Homo sapiens: one gene and its partner. The protein of the gene in region 2 interacts with the protein of the main gene of each other region in a pairwise test. Each region holds a gene or a part of one and is shown on either strand. Other genes may lie near its edges.

Evidence for each region.
Region 1: the proteins of TMEM14C (region 2) and PLIN3 interact in binary tests that used the Homo sapiens proteins (3 or more experiments, as listed by UniProt).

The regions. Positions count from the first base shown.
Region 1 is NC_000019.10:4,843,654-4,850,679, forward strand, and holds part of PLIN3 (perilipin-3), read right to left. Parts: intron 4,238-7,026; coding exon 4,038-4,237; intron 1,141-4,037; coding exon 1,015-1,140; intron 1-1,014. UniProt on the Homo sapiens protein: Structural component of lipid droplets, which is required for the formation and maintenance of lipid storage droplets. Required for the transport of mannose 6-phosphate receptors (MPR) from endosomes to the trans-Golgi network.
Region 2 is NC_000006.12:10,719,147-10,726,077, reverse strand, and holds the start of TMEM14C (transmembrane protein 14C), read right to left. Parts: upstream 3,009-6,931; 5' UTR 2,837-3,008; intron 1,523-2,836; exon of another isoform or gene 1,509-1,522; 5' UTR 1,465-1,508; coding exon 1,445-1,464; intron 1,118-1,444; coding exon 1,041-1,117; intron 172-1,040; coding exon 70-171; intron 1-69. UniProt on the Homo sapiens protein: Required for normal heme biosynthesis.

The DNA of each region.
Region 1 (7,026 bases), on a different chromosome or scaffold from region 2:
AGATCCTGTCTCTACTAAAAATTAAAAAAAAAATTAGCCAGGCATCGTGGCACACGCCTGTGTTCCCAGCTACTTGGGAGGCTGAGGCGAGAGGATTGCCTGAGCCTGCAATGGCGAGGCCACAGTGACCTGTGATGGCATCACTGCACTCCAGCCAGGGCAACAGAGTGAGACCCTGTCTCAAAGATAAATAAACAACTATTTCAAAAATTGATATATAATCCACACACCCTAAAACTCGCCCTTTGAAGTGTACGATTCATTGGTTTTTAATACATTCACAAGGTTGGGCAAATACTACCTTCATCTAATTTCAGGACATTTTCTGTTTTTTGAGACAGAATCTCCTTCTGTTGCCCAGGCTGGAGTGCAGTGGTGCGATCTCGGCTCACTGCAAACTTCCTTTGCCCCTGGGGAGCTTAAGTGGGTGGTGGGACAGGCAGCGAGACCCATTAGAGAACACAAGAGGCCAAGGCTTGAGATAGAGTGGAGGGGGCCGGAGAATACTAGTCAGAAGTTGCTGCTAGGGGCCGGGCTCAGTAGCTCACGCTTGTAATCCCAACACTTTGGGAGGCTGGGCAGGGCGGATCACTTGAGGTCAGGAGTTCAAGACCAGCCTGGCCAACATGGTGAAACCCTGTCTCTACTAAAAATACAAAAAAATTAGCCAGGCGTGGTGGTGAGCGCCTGTAATCCCAGCTACTAGGGAGGCTGAGGCAGGAGAATCACTCGAACCCAGGAGGTGGAGGTTGCAGTGAGCCAAGATCATGCCATTGTACTCCAGCCTGGGTGACAGAGCAACACTCCATCTCAAAACAAAAAACAGAAGCCATACCTATGCATGCCCAAGAGGAGAAATCAAGGCAGGCTTCCTGAAGGAGGTGTCATTAGCTTCCAAAAGCAGGTGAGGCTAGGGAAATCATTCGAAGCAGGTAGGCCCATGAAGCAGAGGTGTAGAGAGTGGCATCGGGACTCCAAGTACCCTAGGCCACCCCCCAGTCCCCTCATGGGTACCTCTGGCTTGGGCGGCTCCTTCTCGGGGCCCTGGAGCTGCTTCTGGTTCCAGCTGAGCCACATCTGGTGCAGCTTCTCCTGGCCTTCCACCAGCTTCTGATCAACGCCTTGCTTGACAGTTTCCATCTGGGGCAGGGGAGAGAGAAGTGAGGGAAGGAGGCTCCCCTGGGAGAGACGGGATTCCAGAAGGAACCCAAGGAATCCTTCCAGCATCTGACTTACATGACAGTCTAGAAAAGAGAAAGGGAGGGAGGGAGGAAGGGTTTCCTGGCTACGGTGAGCTCTGGGGCCTTTGGTTTAATCATTGACATACTCAGGCTCTGTGTGGTTGGTGCAAAGAAGGGCTGCACATCCCCTGTAGCTCTTCCCATTGTGTCAATTTCTCCTGCGCTTGCAAGGGAGCCTGGACACGTGGCTGGCTTTGGCCAATGGGACATGAGCAGATGGAACCAGCAAAGGCTTAAAAAGTGCTTGTAGGCTGGGCATGGTGGCTCACACCTGTAATCCCAGCACTTTGGGAGGTTGAGGTGGGTGGATCACCTGAGTTCAGGAGTTCGAGACCAGCCTAACCAACATGGTGAAACCCCGTCTCTACTAAAAATACAAAAATTAGCCAGGTGTGGTGGTGCACATCTGTAGTCCCAGCTACTCAGGAGGCTGAGGCACGAGAATCGCTTGAACCTGGGAGGCGGAGGTTGCAGTGAGCTGAGATTGCGCCACTGCACTCCAGCCTGGGTGACAGAGCCAGACTCTATCTCAAAACAACAAAAAACAAAAAACAAAAAAAAGTGCTTGTAATGAAATATGACTCAGCCTTCCAAAGGAACGAAGCAGGCTGACTTCTGCAATCCCAGCGCTTTGGGAGGCCAAGGGGGTTGGATCAGTTGAGCTCAGTAGCTCCAGAACAGCATAGGCAACACAGTGACATCTCATCTCTACATATTACATAAAGTTTAAGAGAAAAGAAAAATAGTCGGCCGAGCGCAGTGGCTCACACCTGTAATCCCAGCACTTTGGGAGGCCGAGGCGGGTGGATCACGAGGTGAGGAGATCGAGACCATCCTGGCTAACACGGTGAAACCCCATCTCTACTAAAAATACAAAAAATTAGCCCAGCGTGGTGGTGGGCGCCTGTAGTCCCAGCTACTCGGGAGGCTGAGGCAAGAGAATGGTGTGAACCAAGGAGGCAGAGCTTGCAGTGAGCAGAGACTGCATGCCACTGCACTCCAGCCTGGGTGACAGAGCGAGACTCCGTCTCAAAAAAAAAAAAAAAAAGGCCGGGCGCGGTGGCTCACGCCTGTAATTCCAGCACTTTGGGAGGCCGAGGCGGGCGGATCAAGAGGTCAGGAGATCAAGACCATCCTGGCTAACACTGTGAAACCCCATCTCTACTAAAAATAGAAAAGAAAATTAGCCAGGCATGGTGGCCGGCGCCTGTAGTCCCAGCTACCAGAAGGCTGAGGCAGGAGAATGGCATGAACCCAGGAGGCGGAGCTTGCAGTGAGCTGAGATCGCGCCACAAAAAGAAAAGAAAAATAAATAAAGAGGAATGATGGCAGACATATGCTCCAAGATGGGTGCACCTAAGAGGCTGCAGTGAGCCATGATCATCCACTCCAGCCTGGGCAACAGAGTGAGCCCCTGTCTCTGGAAAAAAAAAAAAAAAAATCGTCATAAAGGTAAATGAAGCTATCCATTAGGGTGGGCTCCAATCCATAAAGGGCTGGTCTCCTTCAATAAGGAGATTAGAGCTGTGCGTGGTGGCTCGTGTCTGTAATCCCAGCACTTTGGGAGGCTGAGGTGGGTGGATCACTTGAGGTCAGGAGTTTGAGACCAGCCCGGCCAACATAGTGAAACCCCATCTCTACTAAAAATACAAAAATTAGCCAGGCATGGTGGCAAGTGCCTGTGATCCCAGCTACTCGGGACGTGGAGGCCCAAGAATCACTTGAACCCGGGAAGTGGAGGTTGCAGTGATCTGAGATTGCACCACTACACTCCCGCCTGGGCAACAGAGCGAGACTCCGTTCAAAGAAAAAAAAGAGATTAGGACACAGACATACACAGAGGGAAGGGACGACCACGTGAATACACAGAGAGAAGATGGCTGTCTACGAGTCAAGGAGAGAGGCCCCAGAAGGACACTCTGATCTTGGACTTCCAGCCTCCAGAAATGTGAGAAAATAAATATCTGTTGTTTACATTTCCCAGACAGTACGAATTTTTTTTTTTTTTTTTTGAGATGGAGTCTCACTCTTGTCACCCAGGCTGGAGAGCAGTAGCATGATCTCGGCTCACTGCAATCTCTGCCGCCCGGGTTCAAGCGATTCTCCTGCCTCAGCCTCCTGAGTAGCTGGGATTACAGGTGCCTGCCATTGTACCTGGCTAATTTTTGTATTTTTAGTAGAGATGGGGTTTCACCATGTTGGCCAGGCTGGTCTTGAACTCCTGACCTCGTGATCCACCCGCCTCAGCCTCCCAAAGTGCTGGGATTACAGGCATGAGCCACCGCACCTGGCCACGATTTTTTTTTTTTTTTTGAGATGGGGTCTTGCTCTGTTGACTAGGCTGCAGTGCAGTGGCACAATCATAGCTCACTGCAGCCTCCAACTCCTGGGCTCAAGCAATCGTCCCACCTCAGCCTCCCAAGTAGCTGAGATTACAGGCACGCACCACCACAGCCAGCTAATTGTTTTAAATTATTTTTTGTAGAGATGGGGTCTTGCTATATTGCCCAGGTGGGTCTCAAACCCCTGGACTCATGCGATCCTCCTGCCTTGGGCTCCCAAAGCACTTGAGGGACTCACACAAAGAGGTGTGAGCCACTGTGCCCGGCCCCAGACAGTGTGGTTTGTGGCAGCATCCTGAGCAAATGAGTGTACAACCAGATACAGTGCCAGGAGCAAGCGGGAATGGCCCTGCCAGCCTGCAGAGGGGTGAGCAATAAGCCACTGAGCTCTGGGTGGGTGTCTGCTGCGGGGTGAAGGCTGCTGGCTCAGGGCCCCGACCCCCTGGAACCTCACCAGGCTTAGGACCTGCGACAGCTGCAGCAGAGCCTCCTGTGCCCTCTGCTTGGTGGCTCGAAGCTTGCCCAGCGAGTGCTCATAGGCGTGCTGCCGCAGCCTCTCCGACAGGGAGCCCAGACGTACGAAGTAGCTCTGTTCCTGCCGCTGCTGCTGCACGGACGCGACGTCAAAGCCATCCAGGGATGTGGCGATGCGGGCTGCAAGGAAAAGGAGAAGGGTCTCTGTGAAGACCAGAACACACAGCTGGGCTCGTCCCATGCAGACAGTCCCAAGAATCACACTGTCCAGTTTATTTATTTATTTATTTAGAGATGGAGTCTCGCTCTGTCGCCCAGGTTGGAGTGCAGTGGTGTCATCTCGGCTCACTGCAACCTCTGCCTCCCGGGTTCAAGTGATTATCCTGCCTCAGCCTCCCGAGTAACTGAGATTACAGGCGCCCGCCACCATGCCCAGCTAATTTTTGTATTTTTAGTAGAGACGGGGTTTCACCATGTTGGCCAGGCTGGTCTCGAACTCCTGATCTCCAGTGATTCATCCGAACTGGCCTCCAAAAGTGCTGTGATTATAGGCGTGAGCCACCACACCTGGCCATGCTGTCCAGTTTATAACCCAGTTCTACTTCTTATAAACCTCGAAGGCCTGGGAGCAAAGGATTCTGCCTTGGTTTTCCCTATCTGCAAAACGGGGATAAGGAAAATTAAACCTCACAGGAATCAGAGACCTTAGACTAGCAGGAGGGTCTCAAGCTATGGCCTGCAGGCCAGACCTGCCTTGGACAACCTGTGAATATAGGCCTGAATGTTCATTATGCAGTCCTGCAGAGAATAACAGCATTCCAGCCAGCAATACATCACATATACTACAGAGGTCCCATAAGATTATAATACCGTAGGCCGGGTGCAGTGGCTCATGCCAGTAATGCCAGCCCTTTGGGAGGCCAAGGCGGGCAGATCACTTGAGGTCAGGAGTTCAAGACTAGCCTGGCCAACATGGCACTACCCCATCTCTACTAAAAATACAAAAATTAGCCAGGCGTGATGGCACTAGCCTGTAATCTCAGCTACTTAGGAGGCTGAGGCAGGAGAATCGCTTGAACCCGGGAGGTGGAGGCTGCAGTGAGCCAAGATCACACCACTGCACTCCAGCCTGGGTGAGAGTGAGACTCCGTCTCAAAAAAAAAAGAGAATAATGACATTTCAGCCAACAATGGACTGCATATACTACAGTGGTCCCATAAGATTATAATACCATATATACCGTATTTTTCCTGTACTTTTTCTTCTTTTTTTTAGACAGGGTCTCGGTCTGTTGCCCAGGCTGGAGTACAGTGGCACGACCTCAGCTTACTGCAGGCTCAACCTCCCAGCTTCAAGCTATCCTTCAACCTTGGCCTCCCGAGTAGCTGGGACTACATAAAGCTGGGACTACGGCAAGACACCTGGCTAATTTTTGTACTTTTTGTAGGAATGGGGTCTCACTATGTTGCCCAGGCTGGTCTTGAAATCCTGGACTCAAGCAATCTGCTCGCCTCAGACTCCCAAAGTGCTAGGTTTACAGGTGTGAGCCATTGCACCTGGCTTCCTGTACCTTTTCTATGTTTAGATCTGTTTGTTTTGTCGGTTTTTATATTTTGAAGTACAGTCTCGCTCTGTTGCCCAGGCTGGAGTGCAGCGGTGCAATCATAGCTCACTGTAGCCTTGAACTCCCAGGCTCAAGTGATCCTCCTGTCTCAGCTCCCAAATAGCAACTGGGACTACAGGCGTGCACTAGCACACCCAGCTAATTTTTAAATTTTTTGTAGAGATGGGGTCTATGTTGTCCAGGCTGGTCTGGAACTACTGGGCTTAACTAATCCTCCCACCAAAGTGCTGGGATGACAGGTGTGAGCCACCACGCCTGGCCTCATCCCATGTTCGTAGGTTCATATGTGTATATGCATGTATTTATTTACTTATTTATTTATTTATTTATTTTTTTGAGACAGAGTCTCACTCTGTTGCCCAGGCTGGAGTGCAATGGCATGATCTCGGCTCACTGCAACCTCCGCCTCCCGGGTTCAAGTGATTCTCCTGCCTTAGCCTCCTGAGTAGCTGGGATTACAGGAATGTGCCACCATGCTTGGCTAATTTTTGTATTTTTAGTAGAGATGGGGTTTCACCATGTTGGCCAGGCTGGTCTCAAACTCCTGACCATGTGATCCAGCTGCCTCAGCCTCCGAAAGTGCTGGGATTACAGGCATGAGTCACCACACCTGGCCTTTATTTTTTTTGAGATGGAGTTTCACTCTTGTTGCCTGGGCTGGAGTGCAATGGCGCAGTCTTGGCTCACCACAAGCTCTGCCTCCCAGATTCAAGCCATTCTCTTGCCTCAGCCTCCCGAGTTAGCTGGGATTACAGGGATGCGCCACCATGCCTGGCTAATTTTGTATTTTTAGTAGAGATAGGGTTTCTTTATGTTGGTCAGGCTTGTCTCGAACTCCCGACCTCAACCTCCACCCGCCTCAGCCTCCCAAAGTACTGGGATTACAGCCATGAGCCACTGCGCCCAGCTGCATGTATTTATTTAATCCTGCTCCTACTGTACCCATGCTTTTTTTTTTTTGAGATGGAGTCTCACTCTGTCGCCCAGGCTGGAGTGCAGCGGCCCAATCTTGGCTCACTGCAACCTCTGCCTCCCAAGTAGCTGGGATTACAGACGCCTGCCACCGCACCTGGCTAATGTTTATTTTATTATTATTATTTTTTTGAGACGGCGTCTAGCTCTATTGCCCAGGCTGGAGTGGAGTGGCATGATCTCGGCTCACTGCAAGCTCCGCCTCCCAGGTTCATGCCATTCTCCTGCCTCAGTCTCCCGAGTAGCTGGGACTACAGGCACCCGCCACCACGCCCGGCTAATTTTTTTTTTTTTTTTTTTTTTTTTTTTAGTAGAGATGGGGTTTCACTGTGTTAGCCAGGATGGTCTCGATCTCCTGAACCTGTGATCCGCC
Region 2 (6,931 bases):
ACCAGGGTCTTTTGGAAAAGAGTATTCTGGATACATAGCTGCCCTAAGGAGACGCCAAAGCAGACATACCTAGGAAAACCCAAACGTTCCTTGGATCCTGAGACAGCTGGTAAGCACCCAGGCCGGCTAGACTGCCAAAGAGCAGCCCTGCAGCCAGGGACGGCACGCTGCCTAGAGGGAAGCAAACACAGCTTGCATTGTAATGTCAGGCACTTATTTCACTAACGGAATCCCCCAGACCGCTGCCCTACAAAGGAGGACAGCACAGAGAACTCTCAACACAGCTCATAGCCAAGGTGGACTCAAGCAGGAAGACGTTACAGAGAGTGTGCTATCTTCTCAGAGAAGTCAGGGTCTTCCCACCCCATTTTTCTCTCCTCTAATAGGCAGGGCACTTCCATCTAAGGAAAGGAAAGAAGGCCATCTTCCCTCCTTAGATGGAACTGTGGCTAGGCCTTCTTTCTAATCAGGCCTGATCAACCATGAAGGACTGGAATTGTGTACAGGCAGGACCTCCAGCAAATCACAAAAGGAGAAGGAGATAAGGCCAGTCAATTAAAAAAATACAAAGACCTGGAGAAGAAGAATTCTGGTGCAGGGGTTGGGGTGGGAATGCAGGCAAGGACTAGGGGGCAAACACAAGCACAGCCACTGACACACCCCTGCCTGGCCTAACGAGGAGAGTTCAAAATACCAGTCTGTGTAGGCCAGAGGTTTCCTCCTACTTGAGCCCAGAGATGGCACTTGGGGGTCGTGGCTGATGAATGGCAGTCAACGATAATAACAAACTACAACCGCCCCTGCCTATCTGTAGATAAAGAGGCAAAAACAAGTAATTCCAAAAGAGGCCTGGCTCAGCTTCACCAGATAACCAAAGGGCAAGGGCAGGAGCTGCAAGACTGACAAGGAAGCCTGCACTCCAGCTTGGGGACCCACAGCAAACCTGACTCAAATGAGATTGCTTCTCAGGGACACGGGCATTCACATTTCACTGGGACAACGTGAAGATGTTAAGAGGCTAAGTAACAACAAAACCCTACCTGCTTTTACATAGCCAATGATCCCACCAGAAGCAACCAGTGCTGCGTAGCCAAAGCCAAACCAATGCAAAGGCACTCTGAAAACACAAGAGGGAGAAGTCAGTGCTAACCTGGCTTTGAAAACAAACCATACTGTCATAGGATGGGACTAAAAGGTAATCATTCCCCACAGGTCCTATCACTGAAAATAAGGACCACAGAGGTTGGATGACTTTCTGAGAGTCACACAACTCAGCAAAGCCAGAGCTGGGACTCAAACCCAAGTTTCTGGCCCACAGGTCCAGTGATCCTCCCATCCCCCATGCCATCCCAGGCAGTCTACTCTTAAGGTTCTTTTCAGCTAAGGAAAGGAACTCTGGTTTCCAGAAGCTCCTGGCTACTCCATACCCATTTACTGCACTCACACTGAGCCAGTGTCCTGCATTTTTCTCTTCTCTGTCCAGACAGGAGACTACCCCAGGCCTGCACCTGCAGAAAACAAGCTGGATCAGAGGTAGTTAAAAGCACAGCTCTCCAGCAGTCAGAAAGAAGTGTGTCCAACCTGCAAGCTACGCAACCTAAGTCTCAGTATTCTTCACTGTACCATGAGGATAACACTGGTACCGATTTCCTGGGGCTGTAGTGAGCATTCAATGGATGTCACATGTAAAGGTGCTTAGCACCTAGTAAACCCTGAACAGATGCTGACCATTGTCATGAAAACCTCAGTTTTAATCACATAGGCCCACGGGAAACTCAGCAAGATCCACTGACCAGCTCTAAAATCAGGGAATGTGTTAGTCATTTCATCAGCTACCCATGTTATCACTAAATTCAAAAGCAAATACTCCCGTGCCCTTAATCCAACTACTTTAATGTCTCTTTTGAGGGGAGGTAGGGGTGTTGCTTTTCATCCCTGCTGCAACAGCCAATTTCAAAGCTCAACTTTTTTAGAAACTTCTGCGTCCAACTCACAGTTCTTGTTAGGAGGGCAGTAGTAGGAGAGGATAAAATATACGGAAACAGTGGTCATATTCACATGTGACACTACACCCTTGGAAAAACAGCTTCTATTTTCTTACAGAAAGTATCCTGTGTCCAGTGAGCCAAAAGATGAAAGCAATGCATACCCCGTTTATTCTGTTTAAAGAATTAGGCCAAGCGCAGTGGCTGACGCCTGTCATCCCAGTACTTTAGGAGGCCGAGGCGGGCGGATCACCTGGGGTTAGGAGTTCAAGACCAGCCTGGCCAACATAGTGAAACCCATTGTCTACTAAAAAATATAAAAAAATTAATCGCGCATGGTGATATGCGACTGTAAATCCCAGCTACTTGGGAGGCTGAAGTGGGAGGATGGCTTGAGCCCAGGAGGCAGAGGCTGCAATGAGACATATTCAGGCAACTGCACTCAAGCATGGGCGACAGAGCAAGTCCCTCCCTCAAGGACAAAAAAAAAAAAAAAAAGAATTAAGTTTCCATAAAACAGGGAAGGGCAGCGGGCTTGGGATCTTGCCCACAGTTCTTAACTCGAGACGGCACCGAGTAAGGGAGGCTTTTAAAGAGATGGAGCAAGAAAATCACCAAGAAACGAGGCAACACTATGCTACATGGGTAAGCCTTTGCCTCAGGAGCCCAGGGGCTCCGCGCATCCACAACTTCTTTTAAAAGCAGAAAATACCCAACGAGAAAAGCACCGACCACACGGCCTGAAGGCCCGCTGAATCGGGGGGACGAAAAGCAGACGGCCGTGAAACTCCTAAATAATCCCTAAAAGTTAAAAGTGGCAGAAAATAAGAATAATCCCCAAATACTCGCACCGGTCTCACGAAGGCCCCGGCTGTCTACAAGGGCGCGCAAGCCGCAGGAATGACTGCGAGGTGTCGCCGGAAATGCAGCGGCGGGCGCTCTCCGTCCCGGTGGCGGGGCGAGGAGAGGGGAGCGGCTCTGTTGTGCCTGCGCAGTGTACCGGGAGAGGGGCGGTCAGAGAATGGGGACGGTGCGGGCGGGGCTTGAGCCGCCAAGTAGCAGCATGCGCCCTGCATTCAGCGGGTGGAGAGTGGGGCGGGGCATCGCGGCGAGCTCCTGAGTCCAGGGAACGCGGCGGGGAATCTCTGTGCTTCCCCTGTCCGCAGCGCCTGCAGGGCCGACCAGTATCAGTCCCAGGTCCAATCCTGAGTGGCCAAAAGCAGGAGACCCGGAGTTGGACCTGGGACTTGCACAAGCCGGACCACGTGAGCTCGGCCACGCCAGAGGTGAGGCCACCGCTGCGGGACCAGGGAATCTGAGGCTGGATTTTGAAGGACCCCATTAATAGAGGAACAAGTTACAGGGTATAAACCAGATGCAGGCCATCAGGGAGGAGTGTCACTCAAGCCCGATCTTGTCTACACCAGGAAGGGCCTGCCTGGAAGAAAATACGGGGGCTGCAGAATAATGTGGCTCAAAGCCAAATATCCGTTTGTTTTAGGGAGTGAGGCTGCTTGAGAAGCATCTTAAAGGGGGATGGGGAGTAAGTTAAACCTGATTTTTACCCAGCTCTGTGGACCCAAAATATCCACAGCATATTATCTCCATTCCCACTTGGAGTCACTCCTATTCCGTTTCCTGCACCACCATTCTCTTAGTTGCTCTACACTAAAATTTGCTGTCATCGTTGACTTCTCCCTCTCCATCCCCTACAAGTATCAACATACACAAATCTGACCAATATAATTGTCAGTGAATAAAGCGAATTCCAGCCAAGTTTTTTTTTTTTTTATGTGGAGTCTCACTCTATTGCCCAGGCTGGAGTGCAGCGTATGATCTTGTCTCACCACTACCTCTGACTCCCATGTTCAACTGATTCTCCTGCCTCAGCTGCCTGAGTAGCTGGGATTATAGGCCTGTACCACCACCCCTGGCTGCCAGGCTAATTTTTGTTATTTTTAGTGGAGATAGTGAGAGATCACAACGTGCCAGTGTGTTCAAAATTGATGGCTTCTTGGTCTGACTTGAGAAAGCTGCAGACCCTCGCGATGAGTGTTAGTTCTTAAAAGCAGTGTCTCTAGAGTTTTTCTTCCGATGTTTAGAAGTATTCAGGGAGTTTTTCTGCTGGTGGGTTTGCTGTCTCACTGGCTCAACGAGCAAAGCTACAGACCTCTGTGGTGGATGTTAAAGCTCTTAAGGCAGTGTGTCTGGAATTGTTTGTTCTTCCCGGTGGGATCGTGGTCTCCCTAGCTTTGGACTGGCTCAAGGAGCAAAGCTACAGACTTCTATAACGAATGTTAAAGCTCTTAAGGCAGTGCGTCTGGAATATGTTTGTTCTTTCCGGTGGGATCGTGGTCTTCGTAGCTTTGGGAGCAAAACTGCAAATCTTCGCAGTGAGCGTTACCACTTGTAAAGACAACACAGGACCTAAGCACCGAGCAACAGCAATATTTGTTGCAAAAAGAAAAAGAGAAAGAACAAAGCCTCCTCCACATAGAAGAAAACCCAAGTGCGTTACAACTACTGGCTTGGGCAGCCTGCTTTTATTCTCTTATCTGGCCCCACCCACATCCTGCTGATTGGTAGAGCCGAGTGGTCTGTTTTGACAGGGTGCTGATTGGTGCGTTTACAATCCCTGAGCTAGATACAAAAGTTCTCCACGTCCCCACCAGATTAGCTATAGAGTGTCCACACAAAGGTTCTCCAAGGTCCTGCCAGAGTAGCTAGATACAGAGTGTGGATTGGTGCATTCACAAACCCTGAGCTAGACACACGGTGCTGACTGGTGTGTTTACAAACCTTGAGCTAGATACAGAGTGCCGATTGGTGTATTTACAATCCCTAAGCTAGACATAAAGGTTCTCCACGGTCCCCACCAGAGTAGCTAGATACAGTGTCCATTGGTGCATTCACAAACCCTGAGCCAGACACAGGGGGCTGATTGGTGTGTTTACAAACCTTGAGCTAGATATAGAGTGCCAATTGGTGTATTTACAATCCCTGAGCTAAACATAAAGGTTCTCCACCTCCCCACCAGACTTAACCCAGCTGGCTTCACCCAGTGGATCCCACACCAGGGCTGCAGGTGGAGCTGCCTTCCAGTCCTGCGCCCTGCGCCCACACTTCTCAGCTCTTGGGTGGTTGATGGGACTGGGCCCTGTGGAGCAGGGGGTGGTGCTCATCAGGGAGGCTCGGGCCCTACAGGAGCCCACGGAGGTGGTGGGAGGCTCAGGCATGGCGGGCTGCAGGTTCCGAGCCCTGCCCCGTCGGAAGGCAGCTAAGGCCCCGCGAGAAATCCAACGCAGCGCCGGTGGGCTGGCACTGCTGGGGGACCCAGTACACCCTCTGCAGCCGCTGGCCTGGGTGCCAAGCCCCTCATTGCCCAGGGCCGGCCGGCCGGCTGCTCCGAGTGCGGGGCCCGCCAAGCCCACGCCCACCCGGAACTCCAACTGGCGCGGAAGCGCCGCGCGCAGCCCTGGTTTCCGCTCGCGCCTCTTCCTCCACACCTCCCTGCAAGCTGAGGGAGCCAGCTCTGGCCTTGGCCAGCCCAGAAAGGGGTTCCCACAGTGCAGCGGTGGGCTAAAGGGCTCAAGTGCCTCCAAAGTGGGAGCCCAGGAAGAGGAGGCGCCGAGAGCGAGGGCTCTGAGGACTGCCAGCACGTCGTCACCTCTCACTAGCAGCCTTCGCTTGCTCTCGGTGCCTCCTTAGCATCGGCCAGGCTCGAGGAGCCCTTCAGCCCGCCGCTGCGCTGTGCGGGGCCCTCCCTGGGGCTGGCCGAGACCGGAGCCGGCTCCATCTGCTCGTGGGGAGGCGTGGAGGGAGAGGCGCAGGCGGGGACTGGGGCTGCGCTGCCCCGGGTTCCAGGTGGGCGCAGGCTCGGTGGGCCCCGCACTTGGCGCGACCTGCCGGCCCCTGCTGGGCTTGATCGGAGGCTGGGTCCAGTGCGTGGACCGCCGTTCCCTCTTGGCGGGGTCGTTGGCCACGATGGCGGGTCTCTGTCTCTCTCCTCCTCTTTTCCTCTTGGTTGTGTGGGAGGAGCTCCCGGAGTGCCCAGGCTAGTTGCCAAAAAGTCCCACCCAACTCCCAGCGAGAGGTGAAGCCCGCTGGGCTTCTGGGACGGGTGGGGACTTGGAAAACTTTTGTGTCTAGCTAAAGGATTGTAAATGCACCAGTCAGCAGTTTTTTGTCTAGCTAAAGGTTTGTAAACGCACCAATCAGCGCTCTGTGTCTAGCTAATCTGGTCAGGACTTGGAGAACTTTTGTATCTAGCCAAAGGATTGTAAACGCACCAATCAGCACTCTGTGTCTAGCTAAAGGTTTGCAAATGCACCAATCGGCACTCTGTAAAATGGACCAATCAGCTGGATGTGGGTGTGGCCAGATTAGGGAATAAAAACTGGCCACCCACAGCCAGTAGGGGAAACGTGCTTGGGTGTTTTCTTGGGCTGACAGAGCTTTGTTCTTTTGCTTTTTGCAATAAATGTTGGTGCTGATAGTTCTTTAGATCCGTGCAATGTTTATGAGTTTTAATACTCACCGTGATAAGGCTACAGTTTTGCTTCTGAAGCTAGTGAGACCACAAACCCACTGAAAGCAGATGAAAAACTGGATGTGCCACCTTTATGAACTGTAGCACTGACTGCAGAGGTTGGTGGTTTTATTGCTGAGGCTAGCAGAGAGCACAAACCCACCAGAAAGAACAAGTAACTGCAGATGTGCCACCTCTAAGAGGTGTAACACTCACTGCAAAGGCCTGCAGCTTCATTCCTGAAATCAGTGAGACCGTGAACCCACCAGTAGGAAGAAACTAGATAATGTCTGAATGTCGGAAGGAACAAACTTTGGACCCACCATCTTTAACAGTTGTAACATTCAATCATGAGGGTCTGTGGCTTTATTCTTGAAGTCAGCAAGACGAACCCACAAAGTCCAGACACAATGGGGTT